Regions from separate parts of the Homo sapiens genome. Here region 1 is linked to region 2. Evidence: fine-mapped expression QTL. Tissue or cell type: lung. Region 2 holds a variant in brackets; the other region holds the start of a gene. All regions are shown on one strand. Distances are from middle to middle.

The links. PIP is the estimated chance that this variant, and not a neighbour inherited with it, causes the effect.
Region 1: SCPEP1 starts here. The variant in region 2 is fine-mapped to the expression of SCPEP1 in lung (TOPMed, PIP 0.98).

Annotation. Positions count from the first base shown.
Region 1 is chr17:56,974,165-56,982,269 of GRCh38, reverse strand. SCPEP1 (serine carboxypeptidase 1) reads right to left here and starts at 4,139. Exons shown (of 13, transcript NM_021626.3): 1 at 4,035-4,139; 2 at 1,040-1,188. The coding sequence starts at 4,110. It overlaps LOC105371836 (a long non-coding RNA gene), which reads right to left. Exons shown (of 4, transcript XR_934875.4): 4 at 6,263-6,521. RefSeq lists a silencer at 4,197-4,256.
Region 2 is chr17:56,924,881-56,932,985 of GRCh38, reverse strand. No RefSeq gene overlaps it. Among named protein-coding and RNA genes, the nearest start is that of TRIM25, 15 kb to the right of the region's middle. RefSeq lists an enhancer at 7,424-7,958. The variant G/A (reference allele first, on the strand shown) is at 4,708.

The sequences.
Region 1 (8,105 bases), 49 kb before region 2:
AGGTGAGCACCAGGGTCCCTATTTACTGATGAGGGGCCCAGGGTTCCAGCTGGGCCATGCCTACATTTTCCAGAGGCAAGACCATGTTCCTTAATTCCTCCCTGGTGGGTGGTCTTCCGGGTGGGGGTGGGCCATCTCTGGACAGATATTTCAGAAATGCCAGAAAAGAGCCTCTGCCTGTCCCTACAAATCTTTCAACCAGCTCCCTGCCTTCCATCCTACAATCAGAGCTCAAGGTTAAAATGCAAACACACTCAGGGAAAGGGGGAAGGCGCAACAGTCACACGAAGGTGCAGAAGGCTTGTAGCAGTCCCTTCAAAAGATCAGGTTTTCTGGGGGTAAGAAGTTAGGGTTCAGGAAAGGATTGTATGGAGAGGAAGGGAGGGTCAGGCTACCTCAGGTCTTTGCTTTGGAACCTTCCATAACACTTTCTTTTCTTTTTTCTTTTGAGATAGGGTCTTGCTCTGTCGCCCAGGCTGGAGCGCAGTGGCACGATCTCAGCTCACTGCTACCTCCGCCTCCCGGGTCCAAGCAATTCTCATGCCTCAACCATCTGAGTAGCTGGGATTATAGGTATGTGCTACCATGCCTGGATAATTTTTGTATTAAATATTTTTAGTAGAGACAGCGTTTCACTATGTCGGCCAGCCTGGTCTCGAACTCCTGGCCTCGTATGATCCACCCACCTCGGCCTCCCAAAGTTCTGGGATTACAGACATGAGCCACTGTGCCCGGCCTCAAAACACTTTCTATCACTATGTATTCAAATGTATCATCAGGAGTTTTCAGTGAGCCTTCTTGTGACCGTCTGGAAATATAAAGAGACTCTGGCAAAAGGCTAGAACCCCCTCGCCCTCTGATTTAGCCTCCTTGGCTATACCATTGCCTCAGCCTACCTCAGAAGCACGCCGAACCCCCAGGTCACACTGCTGGACCAAATCCGCCCTTCACTGCTGAGACATCAGCCCAAAAAGCAAGCAAAGAGCCACACAGAGGAGACTTGGCTTTGACCTCAGGCCAGGCTGGGAAGCTACTTTACCTGAAGCCACATGACCAGGGGCAGTTCTGAGAAGTTCTTGCAGGAGTTGGTGGCATAATAGAGCCACCAGAACATGTAGGCATCCTTGCGGACCGTCACATAATCCCATACTTCCTTGCCCTCCTCTGTGGGCCAGTCAATGACAGCTCCTGAAACAGAAGTTCAATTTCACTCTCCAGAAGAGTGCCTAATGTACAGGTAAATTCCAAGCCTGGTAGAGACAGCCATGCTAGGCTAGAGATGATTTGTTTTATAGTTTGGTAATTTAGCCACCCCAGTACATTGCAGGAATAAGGAAAAAACCTCGGCTATGAAAAAAGAAACCAAACTTAACAGCGGCATAGGAGGCCAGGGGCTTTCACTTTTTCCTCTACACTTTTCTGTAATGTTTGGATTTTTAACAATAAATATGAAACACTTTTTTTTTTTTTTTTTTTTTTTTGATACGAAGTCTCGCTCTTGTTGCCCAGGCTGGAATGCAATGGCGCAATCTCGGCTCACCGCAACCTCTGCCTTCCGGGTTCAAGCGATTCTCCTGCCTCAGCCTTCCAAGTAGCTAGGATTACAGGCATGCACCACCACGCCTGGCTAATTTTGTATTTTTAGTAGAGATGGGGTTTCTCCATGTTGGTCAGGCTGGTCTCGCACTCCTGACCTCAGGTGATCTGCCCGCCTAGGCCTACCAAAGTGCTGGGATTACAGGAAATACTTTTATAATTCTGTAAAAACAAGAGAGATTTATATTTTGAGTAAAAAAGTAAAAATCTCAGAATGCAATATACTGGTTTTTATATCGTATTTAATACATGAGTAAGACACCAGGCTTGGTGGCTCACTCCTGTAATCCCAACACTTTGGAAGGCCAAGACAGGCTGATAGCTTGTGCATAGGAGTTCAAAACCAGTCTAAGCAACATAGCAACACCCCATCTCTACAAAAAATGCAAAAATTAGCTGGGCATTGTGGCATATGCCTGTGGTCCCAGCTACTCAGGAGACAGAGGTAGGAGAATCGCTTGAGCCCAGTAGGTTGAGGCTGCAGTGAGCTGTGATCACACCAGTGCACTCCAGCCTAGGTGACAGAGGGAGATCCTATCTCAAAAAAACAAAAAACCAACCAACCAAACAAACAAAAAACATGAGTGAAGAGGCATCACAAATTAGTGGGGCTGAGAATATTCAATATACAGTAATGGAGCAACAATTACCTTTTTTGGAGAAAAAAAGAGAAATTTAGGTCCTCTCAACACTATAAACGAAATAAGTTCCATGAGGATCAAGCAATTAAATTTTAAACTTTAAACATTAAAAAAATACAAAAATATAGTTAAATATATTTCTAATGTCTGGATGAGGAAAGAATCTAAGCAAACCCCAGAGACTGTACAAAAGAAACAATGATGGAGGTGAGAACAGAAACTTGTTATATTTCTATACAACAAAATTTCTGTAAATCAAAAATAAAAAGGCAAACAGCAAGGAAAGAGCTACAACAAATATGAAAAAGGGCAATTTTCCTAACTCATGTAGATGATTTTTTTAAACTGAACGATATATATCTGTGTATGTGTGTTTAATATACGTATCCTATAATCCCCTAACTCCAATTTTCCTTACTTAACTTTTCTAGCATCCACAAAATATGTTTTAGAAAAGAGTAGGCTAAATACATTTTCTTTGTCACTTTTTGCTAACGTAACAATTTCCAAGTTATAGCATCTTTTTTTTTTTCCTCCAAAACCACTCTGGGAAAAAAAAAAGTAGAGGGGCTGTTGTTAAAAGATGATGGGGGGGATCCCCTCGGTGACTGGAGTTTTCTGCCTTCTATTTCCTCCCTTCTCAAATTTCAAGCCCCATTGGTCAGTAAAAGAACACTGGTCCCAACAGCTAAAGAGACAGGAGTAGAGAGGAAGACAATGAGACAACGTCTTGTAAATAAGAAAGAGCCAGGGTGGTGGCCTGTGTCTGCAGTCCGGGCTACTTGGGATGCTGAAGTAGGAAGATCACTTGAGTCAGGCAGTTCCAGACCAGCCTGGGCAACATAGTGAGACCCTGACTCAAAACAAAACAACAATGAAGATTAAGAAAACCAGAAAGTGTCCTGAGGAGCAAAACAGATGACTAAAACATTACAGACTTAGCTATAAGGTTCTATATACAAGTAACACACGATTATATTGTCCTTGACAATAACAGATAAGGCTGCGCTCCCTTGAGAATGACAGATAAGGCGCAGGTACCTTTTGACCTAACCCCAGGCACTTCTCCCTTGCCTGGCAGTGACTACTGGTAAAATTGGCAGAGCTACTTATTTTACAAAATCTCCCAGACACTCGCCTAAGGGCCAGATGATCCCCATTTTAGAAAAGGAAAACAAAACTGTTCAACAACTTGCCTAAGGTCACAAGGCAAGCTTGTGGCCAGTTCCAATTCTCAGTGCTTGCTTCAGACTAGGAGAGGTTTTGCTGAAAATCAATTTGCAAGTCATCCTATTAAACACAAATCTGTTTTTTGCCAAAAAAGATCGCTGTGGGGGAAGATGTTATCTTGTTTGTTTTGATCAAGAAAAGAAAGGGCCTTATCTCAATGAAATGTCCCATTCGTGGTAGGATGTAAGGGTACTTTTGACCGCAGATTTCAGCTTAAAATAAAACGACCTTATATCCTCATTTAGCAGCCAATCATGGCCTTTGAATCGGGGAAACCTCATTGACCAGCAGTTTCCCCAAATCATACATTTCTGCACACAGCTTCTATCTAGGCGTAGGAGAGAACGGAAGCACTCAGACCACCCAGAGCCAGAAAAGGACAAAAAAAGCACTTTGAATTTTTTAAGGAAAAAAAAAAAAAAGAGTGAGATTCAAAAGCAATATAATTACACAAGGTAAGAACCGGGGAAAAGAGACATGTTTTCAAAAGCACAAACCCAGTAACAAACTCTCACGCCTGGAGAAAAAAGAGGCATGGCAGCTGGTGCGCCTCTTGCTTGAACCTACCTGCGTTCAGGCCCAGCAGCAGCGGCAGCAGCAGCAACCACCGCGGGACGGGAGAGCGCCGCAGTGCCAGCTCCATGACAAGTACCGCACGGCAGCATCAGCAACAGGCTGGACCCGGCGCCCCATCACGTGACGGAGGCGGACGGGGCGGGTCGGGGGCGGGGCCTGCGGGTCGGGGGCGGGGCCTGAATGGGCATGGGGCGGGGCCTGGGCGGACCCGGCAGCTTGCTGAGACCCGCACGCCCTCTGCCCGGCAAGCCCACCAGGACCCCTGCAAATGCGCAGGGGCCGTTCTGTCCGCCTGGCCAGGTTCTCTGTCATTTTAGGGAGAGTATTTCGGAAAGGAGACATTTGATGCAGATGTTGGATTTAGGTTGTGTGACCGGATCGAAATACTAAAGGGAATAACCACCGCCCTTTCTACCCCTCCCATCTCTTCCTTCCCTCAGCAAAAGAACCGACGTTTTCCAACACTGCTACATCTGCGAAGTCAGATTAAGCCAGCTGGTCGTTGGCAAACAGCGGGGTTTCATTTTCAGATATGTATTTTTTAAATTATTTTTCTTTTAAAGTTATGTATGTTATAAACGTTTTGGAAATATGAACAAAAAAGTTATACATAACTATTGTTGGCATTTTTTCCCATAGTCTTTTACGTCATTTTAAAAAACACTAATAAAGATTTTTATTTTTTTTTTCTTTTTTGATAATTTGTCATTAGTATTACTCTGTGTTACGTTATCTTCACAGCAGTCATTTTAAAGAGAGAATCGAGGGTCTGGGGACGGGAAAGGAAGAAAAAGTGGATGACAGAGCTGTTTTCCTCTGTGTGTGTGTGTGTGTGTGTGTGTGTGTCTGTCTGTCTGTCTGAAGGTCATTTTTACGTTAGAGGGTACTGAATAACTCACCTCACAGCTAGGAGACAAGCTACAGCAGGGGCTGTAGGAGAGGCTACTTCTAAATACTGCTTCAAAAGTACATGTAACAAAAAGCAAAAAACAAATCAAAGTACATGTGGCCACTTCTCCTCTTTCCCTGCTCCTTTCTCCCTCCCCTCGCCCTTGACCCCCATAAATGGAAGTGCTTTTTACTCTGCAGCCATTGTCTGGACAGAGCCTTGACCCCGCCCTGCCTGTGAGGTGCCCCTGCACTGAAAGCTGCGGCAGAGAAAAATATGCCGCCGGGTTCTGTCATGCTTTAAGCATGGGATGGTCCCGAATGCATAAAATCCATAATGCCTGGGCAACATATTGAGACCCCCTCTCTACAAAAAATAACAAAAATTAACTGATGTGGTGACACGCGCCTGCTGTCCAAGCTACTCAGAAGGCTGAGGTGGGAGGATCACTTGAGCCCAGGAGCTCCAGGCTGCAGTGAGCAGGTGTTCCATGCCATATGGGAGATACATAAAAGTACATGCTTAGTTAAAAATAAATAACTATCTAGCAAACTTTTCCTGTCTGAAGCTTCCAAGTTGGTCTGTATCACTAGGGCTTGAAATACACTTACCCTTCCACTGCAGTCAGAATTTTAGGGTTTCAATTTTTTTGCCACAAAAATAACACTACAGCCCAGGGCGCAAGGTGGCTCACACCTGTAATCCCAGCACTTTGGGAGGCCGAGGTGGGCAGATTACTTGAGGTCGGGGGTTTGAGACCAGCCTGGCCAACATAGTGAAACCCCATTTCTACAAAAATACAAAAATTAGCTGGGTGTGGTGGCACTTGCTTGTGGTCTTAACTACTCGGGAGGCTAAGGCATGAGAATCGCTTGAACCCAGGAGGTGGAGGTTGCAGTGAGCCAAGATGGTGCCACTGCACTCCAGCCTGGGTGACAGAGTAAGACCCCATCTCACACACGCACAAAAAAATTGTGCATTTTATAATACGCTAATATGACTTCAAAAGGAAAAAATATAAATAAAATGTCACCTCTAGTTAATGATATTCATATTAAAGTGTTTAGGGGAAGGTGTACCAATGTATACAATTTTCTTTGAAATGTATCCAGATGCTGGCACAGTGACCTATGCCTGTAATCCAGCTCTTTGGGAGACCAAGGTGGGATGATTGATTGAGCCTAGAAGTTTGAGACCAGCCTGGACAATATAGTGAGACCATGTCTCTTAAAAAAAAAAAAAGTATCCAGAATATAAGATGGATTGATGGATAGGATGGAAAGAAGGTTGGATACATGGATAAATACATGATATCAAGTATTACAGTAACATTTTCTTTTTTCATTACAGTTTATAATCACAGGAACAAAATAAACAAAAACCACATGTAGAAACCAGATTAAAGCTTGTTATCCTTACAGGCAGTGGCGAAATTCCAATCTTCAGGGTTGGAGTGGTCTTTGTTTAAGAAAAATACCTCCTTGGTTCATTGAAGTTAGGAGTTGGGAGCTGATGGCATAGTAGCTGCAGCCAAGGCAACAAAAGATAATTGCCAAACTGTGCGGCCCAGGAGAAATTTTGTTTTGCTCCTAGGAGAGGAAAGAAGAGAGAAAGATGAAAAGAAGTGAAGGCTACATATAGAGAAAGATTAGCCAAAGAGAGTTGAGGCTGGAAGAAGAGCCAGTAGAAATTTCTCCGATGAGGAGTGGCTATGTAATCCCCCAATGGGTTCTTTTTGCCTGCTGCCCAGATAGAGCCAGCCAATTTATGAAGGCAGGGGAATTGCAATGGGGAAACAGTTTAATTCATGCAGAGCTGGCTGAAAGGAAGACTGGAGTTTTATAATTACTCAAATCAGTCTCTGAGGAGTAGTTTCAAAGACAGTTTAGGGGTAGGAGCAGAGGTGGCTAGGCAATGGATGCTTGCTGCTGATTGGTTGGGTTGGAGATGAAATCACAGGGAGTTGAAGCTGTCTTCTTGCGCGGATTTGCTTCCAGGTGGGGCCGCAGGAGCAGTTGGTAGGTCCAGGTGGAGCCAGGTGTCAGACATGCAAAAAAACCTGAAAAGATATCTCAAAAGGCTAATCTTAGGTTCTACAATAGTGATGGTGTCTGCAGGAGTAATTGGAGAAGTTGCATATTTTGTGACCTCAGGAATAATGGCTGGCAATCCTTAGCAGAATTCAGCCTCCTCTATTTTCTTAGCCTGGTGGTCATTTAGCGTAAAGTTTGGGGAAGGGCCATTATCATTTAACCTATAACCTAAATGCCTCCCAAAGTTAGCTTGGCCCAGAAGTCCAGGAATAATTAAAGGTAGCTTGAAGGCTAAAGGCAAAGGCAAGATGCCGGTTGGTGAAATCAGATCTCTCCCACTGACAAAATGTTCTCACTGACACAGTTTATGCAAAGGCTGTCAGCTACAGAACATTTTTTAAAAGTTATGCTTGTGGTTCAATTTGAAGTGGATTGCATTTCTACAATGTAAACCTGTCCTCTTGGGGCAGCTAAAAACTATAATAGGACTGGGCCAGGCGCGGTGGCTCGCGCCTATAATCCCAGCACTTTGGGAGGCCAAGGAGGGTGGATTGCCTCAGCTCAGGAGTTCCAGACCAGCCTGGGCAACATGGTGAAACTAAATTAGCCGGGTGTGGCGGCTTGTGCCTGTATTCCCAGCTACTCGGGAGGCTGAGGCAGGAGAATTGCTTAAACCCAGGAGGCAGAGGTTGCAGTGAGCCGAGATCGTGCCACTGCACTCCAGCCTGGGTGACAGAGTGAGACTCTGTCTCAAAAAAAAAAAAAAAATTATATATATATAAAATACGGCTATAAAGGAGGCAATAGGACTGGAAAAAAGATACTGGGTACTGAACCTCAAAACTGTTTTTAAAATTATATGTTTATTCTGAGAAGGGTTTGGGAGGGAGGCTAATGGAAATTGGTTGGGAGTTCCTAAAGGCCCATCCATCGAATTCTTGGTGCAGATGCTTGTGGTAAACCTTGGCATTACGTGACTGTCTTCTCATGTGTCTTCACATCATCTTCCCTTTGAGCATATCAGTCTCTGTGCACTTGTGTCAGGCAACCTAACCAGAGTGACTCCATCTTGAATAAAGGCCAGAAAAAGCCAAATCTGCTGGGTTATATTCCCAGGGGGTTGGGCACTCTTGGTTACAA
Region 2 (8,105 bases):
TTGGGGTAAGCAGAGCTGTAGAGCTCAAAGTCTTGGAATGCAGGTAATGTGAGCCATTTGAGCATACCAGTGCTTTGCAACAGAGCAGTTGGTTTAGGGGCAAGGAATTAGTAGTTTAGGACCAGAATGCCCTGACCAGCCCTGACTATCCCTACCATCATGTTGGCCTGGCCACCATCAGCATAGGAGAAGCCATCACTGCCACTGTGGCCCCAGATGGAGACCCACAGCTGGAGACAAGAAAATTATCACAAGGAAGCTTTGGAGAGTAGAAATGACAGTAGCTATGTGCCAGCTGTTTTTCCAAGCACTTTACAGGTATTAATTCATTTACATAACTTAGGAGATAGGTACTGTTATTTTCTCCCTTTCACAGAAGAGGAAACTGAGGCACAGAGGTTAAACTCCTTGCCTATGAATACAGTGAATGAAAGAGCCTGATTCAAACACAGGTTGTCTTCTCCAGAACTTGTACTCAACCACTATGTCCCATAAAGAAACAGGTGCAGAATTAAGTGAAAAAGTAAATTATAGCACATTATATACTTACAGAGTTTATTTCTCATTTGAATTTTAAAAGGAAGCTCCTTGGGTGTGGTGGTATGCCTGTAGTCCTAGCTACTTGGGAGGCTGAGGTGGGAGAATCACTTGAGCCTGGGAGGTTGAGGCTGCAGTGAGCTGTCACCATGTCACTGCACTTCAGCCTGAGTGACAAGAGTGAGACTTTTTCCAAAAAAAAAAAAAGGCTCCTGATGTAGGATATGGATAAAAATGTTCTGGAAGGACATGCATGAAACGTAATAATAGTCACTGACTGCTCTGCAGAGGGACTGATGGGTAAGGAGCTGCTGCTTTTTTTTTTTTGAGACATCCGGGCTGGAGTGCAGTGGCACTATCTCGGCTCACTGCAACCTCTGCCTCCCAGGTTCATGCGATTCTCCTGCCTCAGCCTCCTGAATAGCTAAGATTACAGGCATGCACCACCACGCTTGACTAATTTTTGTATTTTTAGTAGAAATAGGGTTTCACCACATTGGCCAGGCTGGTCATGAACTCTTGACCTCAAGTGGTCCACACGCCTCAGCCTCCCAAAGTGCTGGAATTACAGGCAAGAGCCACTGTGCCTGGCCATACAACTTTACAAAAGCACAGCTTAGTTTTTATTGACTCCAAATTATGAAAAATGGGGAAAAAGGAAAAATAATGGAAACATTATTTTGAAGAGTTGTAGCTAAGAAAAATTAGAATTCAGTCCAAACTGTAAAAAATAATAAAAATGAAAAATATTAGGCAAGATTAGAATCTAGCAACATGTGTACTATAGTTTTTGAAACAATTTTTCTCTCTCCAGTTTCCCATTTTTACTAAAGACAGATCATTATGGGACTGATTTGCATTATTATACTTGGCCTAATTATTTGTATATAGTGCAGCAAGGATAATTTTTTTTTACATAGGCTTTTAAATTGGCTTTGATGGAACTTTGTTCCATAGAAGGAATCTCAGATAAGACTTTTTAAAAGCTGAACGTGGCCATGGATTTGTACCATCAAATACCTATGAGTTGGGTGATTCCTCTCCTCTTGTGGTTCCAAGATAAACTTGGTGCTCCTGGGCCTGTCAGAAAGTGACATTCTTTACTTATCACAGGTCAGAAACCCTGTACAGGAACTGTAGACAAAGGTATGAGGCCAGTTTTTCCAAGGGGTTCCTACTGGCTCTATAAGTCAAGTTTGATTCCTTAAAGCACACCATTCCAGTCAAAGCCTTAGTAAAATAACTAGTTTCTCCAGTTGTGTCCTGTTACAAATTAAAACAGATTCTTATTGCACTTATGCAAATAACTGTATTGTCATAAGTTAAGAACACTCACAGTTTCCAAATTATGTAGAAATCAGGTAGAGAGAAACAAATAGACTCCAAATTTTGTTCATGGGTGCATACTCAATTGTTAAAAGCTGTAAATAGCTTAAAAGAAAAGTTTTCTTCATTCTGAAAAACGAAACAAAGGATCAGCAACACTTTAAGCAAAAAGTTAAAAAGATTACTTCAGACTTCTATTAGTTTAGTCTATGCAGTGAATTCCTGTTCTGCGTGATATTCATGAACATTTAAGCTCTCCATGAGTACTGAAAGTTTTTCCTTAATTCTGATGTCACAATCTCCAAAGTTATCAGAAACCTGCATTCAAGAGCACCTATTAGAGTTTTATAGCTGATTATAAAACCACCTTCTAAAGAGGACCAAAACAAGACAAAAATTGTCTGTGGATGACAAAAAGTTTTAGTGCAGCCATAGTCAAAGACACAATTGACAGGAAATCTGTCACTTCTGTGGCACGTAATACTTTAATGTAACAATTATTACTGATAACATACATTAAGTCATATCAGTATTATAGGAGTTTCCCATAATTTTGGAACATATATGACTAACATATTTATACAAATACAGCCCAAAGAAAACCAAACACCATTTCATATTTGTCAATGCTTCCTGTATAATTTTTATACCAAGTAAGCCAAATATGTCATTTTTGGACTTTAGGGAACCTATTAATATCTTAAAGAGTTACTTAGGTCAGAAAGAGATAATTTATCATTTAATTTTGGAAACTTTGTCAAATACCAAAAGTTTAAAACACTTGATATTACAAAATAGGATCCCAGGCCATTGTAAAATAAGTCATTCATTTAACCAAAGTAATAATTCAAAGATTTTTTAAAAAGGCAAAAACCTTCATTCTTTGAGACAGGAGACTTAATTTTCCAAATGATAAGCCCTAATAAAAACGGCATGAAGACAATTAAATTTTTTTCCAAAATTTTATAAGCAATCTATAAAATTTTTATCTTGACCATAAGATATAACTTCCATAAACCTTTATAACCTTTAATAAGGAGTTGGTTAATGCTTCAAGAAAACCTTGTTAATTTGACACAGGGGCCCATATGCTGGTCTTGCATCAGTGTGCCTTTGACATTAATGATTAATTTATAGAGAAACTGAACTTATTTTATCTCTCAAAATCAGCCCTTACAATCTCACATGCCCACCTCTTCTGCAATAGTCCCTGGGCCTTGAGGAGTTGAATAGCTTTAATTTCTGGCCCTGTGTCTCAGGAATGCAGTTTGTTTTGATTAGCATCTTCTATTGGGCCTGAAGATGAGGCTTTAATTGCTGCCAGTATTTAAGATTTAGCAAGACTTGGTGTTCTTTTTGGACCCAGGAGTCAAAGCCCTGTAACTCAATGTCACAAGTACTTTAAAAGGGCATACAGAGAGATACACAGATGTAATAACCTTAATTTAAACAAATTTTATTCTCAATTTTTTCCCTAAGCAAACCAAAGCTTAATAATAATATGACAACTTGATCATATAAACTTTTTTTTGTTTTTATAAATCCTCTTATTGTGATTTATACAGACCATTCATGACATGCTTGGACTTTCTGGTTTGTCTTGAACATCCCTTTCTTAAACAACCAGTTATTTTACTTTAGGACTAAATTTACCACACAAGATTCTTTCTCATATGAAATTATTTCTCTTTAAGCTTTTTTAAATGATTACCAAAAAACCCTCTTTATTTTCATAACTTTCTTTACATCTCTCTTATTTCTTTGTTCCTTTTACCTTGTTTTATACATGACCTTTAAATAAACTTTAAATCAGATAAAAATTGTTCACCTTTTTTAAAAGGACACTTTTTTTTTTTTGAGATGGGGAGTTTTGCTCTTGTTGCCCAGGCTGGAGTGCAATGGCGTGATCCCTGCTCACCGCAACCTCCGCCTCCCGGGTTCAAGTGATTCTCCTGCCTCAGCCTCCCGGGTAGCTGGGATAACAGGCACCTGCCGCCACGCCCAGCTAATTGTTGTATTTTTAGTAGAGACAGGGTTTCACCATGTTTGCCAGGCTGGTCTTGAACTCCTGACCTCAGGTGATCCACCTGCCTCGGCCTCCCAAAGTGCTGGGATTACAGGTGTGAGCCACCCTGCCTGGCCAGGATACATTTTTTTAAATAGAAAGAATGTTTTCCTACAATATATTTTAATTGGAAAATACCCAAATAATGATATACCTATTATTTAATTTAACTTTAGATTCTAAATTATGACAAGTTTGTCTGCAAGTATTTATCCCATTACATTTATCTATTTTAATTGTTTACCCAGATTTATGAAAACTGCAATAGTCATCATTTAAAGTTATGAAACTTGCCATTGCAAAATTCTGAGACAGTGAAAAATATATGACCTAATGGACTCCATCTTGCTTCTAACCTCCAAGCTGTCCTTGTTCATTCCTGAACTTTGGGAGTAACTTAGTTTATAGTTTCACTTTGAAACGAAGATGATAACAGTCCTTTCCGAAAACACACCTTACTGCCTGTGGACTAGACCACCTAAAGCCACAAGATAGAAGTATGGTAATCTTATTAAATTCAAGATGCAGCTATTTTTATTAAATCAATGTCAGTGTCTTATTTATTAAAGACGACATGAGCAAAGGTCATTATGTTTTGGGCTGGCTTTATAGTTTTGTAACCCCCATGTCAAATTTTGACACCTTGTAGTATTTGGCAGGGATAAGTATGAAATTGCTTGGTCAATAAATGCAAACAAAAAGATGTATGCTGGCAATTCTTAAGACATTTCTAATATTAAATTACCAATAATTAAATTTATTTATTTATTTTTTGAGAC[G/A]GAGTCTGGCTCTGTCGCCCAGGATGGAGTGCAGTGGTGCGATCTCGGCTCACTGCAGGCTCTGCCTCCCGCGTTCACGCCATCCTCCTGCCTCAGTCTCCCGAGTAGCTGGGACTACAGGTGCCCACCACCATGCCTGGCTAATTTTTTGTATTTTTAGTAGAGACGGGGTTTCACTGTGTTAGCCAGGATGGTCTCGATCTCCTGACCTTGTGATCTGCCCGCCTTGGCCTCCCAAAGTGCTGGGATTACAGACGTGAGCCACCGCGCCTGACCATTACCAATAATTTTAAAACTAGCTTATTTATTAAAGATTTTACTTGGCTGGGCACAGTGGCTCACGCCTGTAATCCCAGCACTTTGGGAGGCCGAGGCAGGCGGATCACAAGGTCAGGAGATCGAGACCATCCTGGCTGACATGTTGAAACCCCGTCTCTACTAAAAATACAAAAAATTAGCCAGGCATGGTGGCAGGCACCTGTAGTCCCAGCTACTCGGGAGGCTGAGGCAGGAGGATGGCGTGAACACGGGAGGCAGAGCCTGCAGTGAGCTGAGATTGTGCCACTGCACTCCAACCTGGGTGACAGAGCGAGACTCTCTTTCAAAAAAAAAAAAAAAAGATTGTACTTACTTAAGGTATGTAAACTTGAAAAAGCATTTGACTAGTCTTTTCTTTTTTCCTGATAAAGTATTTGATTCAAACACTTTTATTTTCTTAAGACAATTAATTAGAGCTCTTTTATATATTTTCAGCAGTGAAACATTGTGTACACAACACACACATACATAGAGATATTAGGCATGCAAATAGAAGCACATTTTATAGATTCATAAAAACCTGTTTTTTTCTATTTCAGACTTTCAGATTCTTGATAACCTGTTTCACAGCCCTAGGCAGTTGTCAGTTAAGTAGCCTTAAATTTGCATATTAAAGGAAACAACTCAGTTGAAAATCAAATAGCAAAATTTACATCATAAGGTATGGAGAGAAAAAGTCTGGTGTGCTAGAGGAAGATTAAAGATGGATGCCAGATCAAACATAAAATTATAAAAACGTATCATAGGATTGTACAAGGAGACCAATTTTATTTAGATAGGTCTTACCTGTCTTTTACCTGGATCTCTGGGCAGAGCCCACACTGAATCCTGGGTCTCCAAAAAGGGAGAATTACTATTAGGCTAAACCACGTGATGTTTTTACAGGGGACTTAAAAAATTTTTTTTTGTAACAAAGACATTTTTAAGTGTCTACACCCCATGCTTCTTTAAAAACCCAAGAGTAGCCTCTGTTGCAATAACTATTTTAGTCAATAAATCAGGTAACACCATACAAAAGCAAGCAGTTTAAGGGCTTAGACAAACTTGTCTGTTTACACTGTTGGGATTCCATAAGGAAAAACAGGTTTCTCCCCTAAAGGGAGTCTGGTGCCTTCTCCGTTTGCTTTAAGGAACTCCAGGCTATTATAAGCTATTTTAGGTCCCTCATACAGCAGAGGGTGCAAGAGAAAGGAGAGATAGCAGAAGTAAATGAAGAATTCAGTCAACTGAGAAGAAAAAACTTTTGTTCAAAAAAGAGACAAGGTCCTAGAAGAAAAACAAAACAAAAATATGAAGGCCTTTGAAATATAAACACACATATGCACAGATACACACACATCTTGGATGTTAGCTTTAAATTAATGGTGACTTTTAACTATTGAGCTCCTTTAAAAAAATCTTTTTAAATCTTATTACCATATTTCAGTGAGGACAATTGCTGCTATTTCAGAAGTACAGCCATTGCTCTTTCAGTTCAGCCTGGCTAGCAAAATGGTGGCCTTGTTATGTAAATAAAGCCCCTTAGTAGTCAAAATTTTTCCACATTTTTTTTCTTCTGCTGGCTGTTTTTCTCCCCTCACCACACCAGCTGGTGGTTAATCTTAAATTTAGCCAAGAGAAACCCCAATTCAGTTACTTACCTAGGGATGGGTCTCAGGCTGAAGACAGCTCTCTACCATCCTAGAAGCAGGAAAAAAATAACCTCATCTTCCCTGTTGTAAGTGAGCTGAAACTCCATAAAGGAGTTACCTGCTTTCCATCGTCATGGAAGCAGGAAAAACTTGCCTTCCTTGTGTTGGAAGCAAGTAAAACTCCAAAAAAGAGTTGCACAGCAAAATAAACTTTAGATCTCAATCAAATATTGGGAAATCAGAGATTCTCTGGAGGGTGTGCTTCCAGGCCTCAGCAAATTGTCCTATTGGTTTGAGCCATAAAGATAGCTCAAGCTGGTGCCAAGCACCAATAGGAGATTTGTCAAAGGTCAGGGGCACCTCCACGTAGAATCCCTCTGTGGTTACCAAAATGTGAACTTCGAAAATCTGAGACAAGTCTCAGTTAATTTAGAAAGTTTTGGTCGGGCGCGGTGGCTCACGCCTGTAATCCCAGCACTTTGGGAGGCCGAGGCGGGCGGATCATGAGGTCAAGAGATCGAGACCATCCTGGCTAACACGGAGAAACCCTGTCTCTACTAAAAATACAAAAAATTAGCTGGGCGTGGTGGCGGGCGCCTGTAGTCCCAGCTACTAGGGAGGCTGAGGCAGGAGAATGGCGTGAACCCGGGAGGCGGAGCTTGCAGTGAGCCGAGAGCGCGCCACTGCACTCCAGCCTGGGTGACAGAGTGAGACTCCATCTCAAAAAAAAAAAAAAAAAAAAAAAAAAAAGAAAGTTTATTTTGCCAAGGTTGAGGATGCACACCTGTGACATGGCCTCAGGTGGTCCTGACTATGTATGCCCAATGTAGTCAGAGCACAGTTTGGTTTTACACATTTTAGGGAGACAGAAGACATCAATCAACATATGTAAGATGAATATTGCTTCAGTCTGGAAAGGTGGGACAACTCTAGGTGGGGAGGGAACTTCCAAGTCATAGGTAGGTAAGAGACAAATGGTAGCATTCTTTTCAATTTCTGATTAGCCCCTTCAAAGGAGGCATTCAGATACGCATTATCTCAGTGAGCAGAGGGGTGTCTGAATAGAATGGGAGGCAGGTTTGCCTTAAGCAGTTCCCAGCTTGACTTTTCCCTTTAGCTTAGTGATTTTTGGGCCAGCCCCAAGATATTTTCCTTTCACAGTGTGTAGTGGCATCTCATCGTTGTCTTAATATGTCCCATCCCAATGACATATGATATGATGTTGAGCATCTTTTCATATGTTTATTTGCCATCTGGATATCTTCTTTAGTGAGGTGTCTGTTCAGACCTCTTGCCCATTTTTTAAATGGTTGTTTTATTGTAGAGTTTTAAGAGGTTTTTGTTTTTGTTTTTTGAGATGGGGCTCTTGCTCTATCACCCAGGCTGGAGTGCAGTGGTGAAATCCTAGCTCACTGCAGCCTTGAACTCCTGGGTTTAAGCAATACTCCC